2 separate regions of the Homo sapiens genome follow, and region 2 is linked to region 1. The links come from fine-mapping of genetic effects on gene expression. A gene starts in region 1. The other region holds a variant in brackets. All regions are shown on one strand. Distances are from middle to middle. Region 1 holds the start of TXN (thioredoxin). Region 2 overlaps TXNDC8 (thioredoxin domain containing 8).

What was found.
Region 2: its variant is fine-mapped to the expression of TXN in whole blood (TOPMed, PIP above 0.99).

What each region holds. Positions count from the first base shown.
Region 1 is chr9:110,254,971-110,257,879 of GRCh38, reverse strand. It overlaps TXN (thioredoxin), which reads left to right and starts at 1,373. Exons shown (of 5, transcript NM_003329.4): 1 at 1,373-1,468. The coding sequence starts at 1,445. RefSeq lists enhancers at 692-741, 782-981, 1-1,109, 1,852-2,181 and silencers at 1,122-1,361, 1,532-1,781.
Region 2 is chr9:110,316,491-110,319,399 of GRCh38, reverse strand. The region is part of intron 4 of TXNDC8 (thioredoxin domain containing 8); the gene reads left to right. Among named protein-coding and RNA genes, the nearest start is that of TXNDC8, 20 kb to the left of the region's middle. The variant A/C (reference allele first, on the strand shown) is at 1,364.

The sequences.
Region 1 (2,909 bases):
CTTGCCTATATCCATATTCATGCTCCGTGCTCCTCAGCCCCCTAGAAACTTTGCACAATAGATTCAAAACCTCTGGTTTCCTCCCTTCCTCTGTCTGAAAGAGTGAAAGAAGGAAGCCAGGGATTTCAGGGGGCAGCCAGGCAGCAGTATCACCACCCCTAGGCAATCACACCTAGTTGCAGCTTCATCGGGAACAGCTCAGCTCTGAAAACACAGACCTGGGACTCTCCCTCCCAGCCTTCTAGCTCTCGTTCCTGTGAGCAGCTTTTCAACCTCCACTTCCAGCCGCTGACAGGCCCTCCTGGCTCCACAAGGCCAGCTAACATACCCACCTTCCACAATCCCCAGCCCTGCCAGACATAACCTGCAACAGGCATTCCTGGATCAATGCAAACTCCGACTTCTGTTCCAGGAGTCTGCCTCTGTTAGAAGAATCTCACACAAGTGTGCGTGCTGTGCCATTGTAAATGCTGTATAAGGTGGCCAGGCCCAATCAGTCCCTGCAAGACACCGAACAGTAAGAACTATCTATGGAGTGTTTACTATGTGCCAAGCACCGTCCTTTGCAAGCACTATTAACCCTCAAAATACCACCACCGTGAGATTGAGACCATCATGATTCCCGTTCTACAGAAGGAAACACTGAGACTTCAGGAGGTCAGGACCTTTCCAGGGTCACAACTGCGTAACTAAGTTGCAGAGCTCAACCCAGTGGCACTTCCATCTCACACGCAGCTGTCTGATGGTCAAGAGCCCAACCAGTCCCCCGGTCGTTTCTACCGCACTAAACCGCTGTGTCAAGCTGGAGCAGCGGGCTCAGCAGTGAAAATGAAAGAACAGAAGGAGGTTACAGAGAAGAGAACGGTCACGGTAAATTCCGGAGAGGAGGCAAGGACGTACACACCGAGATACTTCCCGGTCACCGTTACTCAGCACTTTGTGGGGTTCACGTGGCTGGGGGGGCCGGGGCGTGGCGGCCCTTTTCGAGGAATCCAGCCCTGCCTGGGCGGTCCCCATCTCGAGCGTGGGCGTGTTCGATTCAGGCCCGGCGGACGCATCCCCAGGTGACCCGGGAGGGACCTTGTGTCTCTGGGGGTGACTGTCCGTCTCCCCGCCTCCCACCGTCACGCGCAGTGCTGATCCCCACTTCCAGCTGGAGTGCGAGCTGGGCTTGGGGTTACAGGAGCCGAAGCCCTGGAGCTCCGCCCCACGCTTGCGCCAGCCCCGCCCCGATCCCGGCTCGCAGGCTCCAGGGGCGGGGCGTGGCCGGGGCGCAGCGACGGGCGCGGAGGTCCGGCCGGGCGCGCGCGCCCCCGCCACACGCACGCCGGGCGTGCCAGTTTATAAAGGGAGAGAGCAAGCAGCGAGTCTTGAAGCTCTGTTTGGTGCTTTGGATCCATTTCCATCGGTCCTTACAGCCGCTCGTCAGACTCCAGCAGCCAAGATGGTGAAGCAGATCGAGAGCAAGGTACGCGCTACCGGGGAAGGCCAGGGTGCCGGCGCCGCGCGCGGCCTCTGTAACTGGGGAAGGCGGTGGCGGGAGGTGGGGAAGGCGGTGGCGGGAGGTGCGGAGGCCGCCCCTCCGCATCGCCAGGGGAAAGGGACGCGGCGTCTCGGCCTGGGACTGCGGGAAGCAGCGGCCTGGGCGCGCCCGAGGCGGTGGAGCCTGCCCTGGAGGAAGGGAGGAGAAGGACGAGGGTCCCCTGGAGGGCGGAGTGGCGGTGCCCAGCGTTTCTCGCACCCTGTTCCTCGGGGGATTGCACGCACGCGGGGAGCGTCCGGGGGATGTGAGAGCGCAGACAGCGTGAGGAGTCCCCACGCTGCGCCTCCTGCACCCTCCCGTCCGGGCAGCCCCGACTGGAGGAAGATGAGGGAATGGAAGGGGTCCGCCCTTGGCCCCCCATCTGTATCCAGATTCAGGCCCCAGGCAAGGATAGGGAGGGCCCTTGCAGAAGGCACGGGTCGGTGGCCGCCGCTGCCTTTCCGTATGTGAAGTGATCCACCCGCAGCGGGGGTAGTGATCTCCCTTTGGGAGCGGGTCTAGGCCGGAGACCCCCGCCTGCCTCCACCCATGCCCGACCCCAAAGGTGACGCGTGCTGTATCCGCACTAAGGGGGCGGATTGCGGCTGGAGACCCCCTGGCACGTGCAGGTCTGTCCAGGAGGCCCGAGGGCCCCAGGTGACCGCGAGGAAGTGAGGTCCGGGCCGCGCCCACGGGACTCCTGTGGCGCAGGGCGCGTTTCCGGCAGCAGTGGCTTTGGAATGACTGAGTCCCCAAGGTTGGGCCCGGGGGCCTCGGCTGCCCTGCCCGTCCATGATTCACCCTCAGTCGGTGGGTTTTGCTGGAGCCAGGGTTCCTCCTGGGAGCAGCCGCGCCCTGCTGCCTGCTCGCCGACCTATCGGTATCCCGATCGTTGTTTTGTCCTCTTAAAAATGCCCAAGGCGAAACAGCCTTCCCATGTTTGAAAGTTATTGCAAGCCTAAAACCTTGTAGACTGGGAAACCCAGAGCCTAACGCGCAGTGTCTAGTCCAATGTAGCCACTCCAGAAATATTTGTTAAATGCAGCGTCAGAAAAGTGAGTGGAGGAAATTGATACTGCTCGAACGGTAGAAGACCCCTCGCCAGCGCCTACCCTGCGATTACCCCTCCCTACCTGCGGGAAGCAGAGGAGGGCGGGTCCTCGCCCGCCTCGGGTGCCCTGACCTGTTTGGTGCCGGGTGGGCTTCGGAAACAGAAGTGTGTCTGCAATGTGTCCCCGATCCTTTTGTTCCTTTGATTATTATTGACTCTCAGTGTTTTTTCCTCATATGTTGATTGCCACTGTCATCTTTTATCTTCCTCTCAATCAGTTTTTTCTTAGTGGGATTCTCATTTTAGCAGCCCTCATGTGTTGAAAAGATCCTTAGT
Region 2 (2,909 bases), 62 kb before region 1:
GAGTCCCAGGATCTAGCTGTGCACGGCCATCTCTCTGAAAATGTATAAATAAATAGTAATTTAGAAATAAAGTTTATGAAGACCTCTAAGGCTCTTTCAATAACTACAACATCCATTTAAGCTAAGTCATCTTAGCATTCAGGGGTTGCCTACCCAATAATATTTAACCTGTCAAGGATTGTGTTACACACAGAGATGTTCTGCATGAGGAAAAAAAGAAACCTCTTACGTGCAGGACTCTAAAGGGTGCAGATCCCTAAAAGGGGTTCCTATCAACTCCATAAACAGTTGATGCACTGGCAGAGATTGACTGGGGGTCGGGGGGCAAGAACTAAGTGAGATGGAACAAAAGTGGGCAAAGTGTAGTAACTATTTAGAAACATCTAGCAACCTTCAGCACCTTTGCTAAAGATGCTGCTCTCTGCTTTGACAGTTCAAAGGCTCACATGTGTCTCTTCTCCCAGGCAGGGATTAGGGTGCAGCAAGCAAGTCAGGATATGACAAGTGCAGGATTAAATCTTACCTTTATTTAAATTTTTGATATTTTGTTCATCATGTATTTTTTGCACTGAGTTTTAATACTTTTATATAATACTTATTAACATAATATTTATGTTGATTACTGAGTTTTGGCAGCTACCCCTTAAAATTTTTTTTTTTTTTAGACGGAGTCTTGCTCTGTCGCCCAGGCTGGAGGGCAGTGGCACTATCTCAGCTCACTGCAAGCTCCGCCTCCCGGCTTCACGCCATTCTCCTGCCTCAGCCTCCCAAGTAGCTGGGACTACAGGTGCCAGCCATGATGCCTGGCTAATTTTTTGTATTTTTGTAGTAGAGACAGGGTTTCATCGTGTTAGGCAGGATGGTCTCGATCTCCTGACCTCGTGATCCACCTGCCTCGGCCTCCCAAAGGGCTGGGATTACAGGCGTGAGCAACCGCGCCTGGCCACCCCTTAAATTTTTTACCCCAGTACCTACCCTGCTCTTCTCCTCTGAATTTTAAGTTGTTGAAATATAGGAGTGATATGTTTGGTGATTCACCAGAAGGACTTACAAGACCCAATCACAAGTTATATTCATAACTAAGATTTAGTACAGCAAAGAATACAGAGAAAAAGCGCAGAAAAAAAAGATATGCATTGATGGAGTCCAGAAAGGTCCAGCAGAGACTTCTGAGGTCTTTCCTTGTCAGACACATAGGAATGCTCTCTCTCTAGCAATGAACTTCCGGTAGCTATGTGGTATGGCCCTACTTAGGAACACCACTTGGAGCTCAGAGACTGAGGTCTTTGTGGAAGTAGGGGAGTAGTTGTGACATACACTTATCTTGTGCAACCATTGCTACACAACAGGCCATGGCAATAGA[A/C]ACTCAGAACCCCAACAATAAAACCAGGGGCATATCATCAATATTGATGTGTATGCAAAGCAACTTGACACGCCAGCATGGCATGGTCCATCCCTCCAGGAATATATAACAAAGTCCGTCAATCACCAACACAAGGAACACTTGGAGGGCCACATTTCTAGGGGGTGGTGAAGGGTCAAACATAGTTCTCTTGGAGACACACAAGAAGAAAGCAACCAGACCTGCTGCATTAACTCTTTTCTCCCAAGGAGTCACGTGGCTAATCACAATATCACCTTTATTATAAGTAGTCATAATGCTACACTGTGCTCATTGAACAATGTGGCTGGGATCTATGTCAACAGACTTCCTACTATTCCCTTAAAGCCTAGACATTGGGGTGACCCACCTGTGGGAGAATCTGGGGCTGCAAAGAAGAAACTTACCTGTGCAGGTAAAAGAGGTATTGTTGCTTTGCACAACTATCAAGCCCCAAAAGTGAGGCTATAGTATGATGGCCTTCCAGATCTATCTGGGCAGGTTTAGGGCCCACTTCCCATGTGTTGTGCAGAAAGACAGTGGGAAGAGAGCATACCTGTCCCTTGAGCAGAGCATCCCCAAAAGGAGAGAGGATAGGCACAAGTTCATTCCTTTGTGTCAGCTTAACAGATAAGCTCACCTCTAAACATGGGGAGAAGTGAAGGGATATAGGAAACAGGCATATTTTCTCAAAACTGGGCATTTGAGCAGATTTTCCAGTGGAAACATGAGAACAAGTATATGAGCCATTGAAGGGAATGGCCCCCAAACCATGTTTATCCCTGAGAATAAAGTTTCACCCTACACTTCCAGTAAACGGGAAAAATGACATCTCCTCTAGCCAGAGTCCAAAATCAGTTTTCCTGTTCAAGGTGTGGCTTGAGGTGAATTCCCACGACATTAGATGCACACGCTTTTGCCCTTCCACAGAAAGCCACATTGTACTGACTACCTAGCTCTTAGGCAGTTGCATGAAGCCTCAACAACTTCAGTTGATGGCACAGAATAAGAGTCGGTGAACAGTCCCAGGGCCATATCCGACCCTCCACTTGTTTTTGTAAATAAACTTTCACTGGAACACAGCCATGCCCATTTGTTTATGAATTGTCACTAGCTGCTTTAGCATTACAACAGCAAATTTGAGTAGTTGCAACAGAGACCAAATGGCCTGCAAAGCCTAAAGCTGGTATTATCTGATCCTTTACAAAAAAAGCTTGTCAACCCCTACACAGAAGAAAAGCACTCTTGCATTATTTATGCCACCAACGCTCAAAGAATCAGATCTGTAAGTAGAGTTTCTAAATCAGCTACAAGAAAATGAAAGTAAATTTGTATTTTGCTGGTATCGCACTATTAGAACAAGTTGAGAAGAAGGCCAGTATAGATAAGGAAAAAAATTAACATTGTTTTTATAGGCTCTTGTTCTTGAATTCGAGTGCATATAAATTCAAGCTGCTTGCTTGATTTTTATTTAGCTCCTCCAAAAACTTTAATCAAGCCCCTTGCAGTTGCAAAGCCTGTCTTGAGT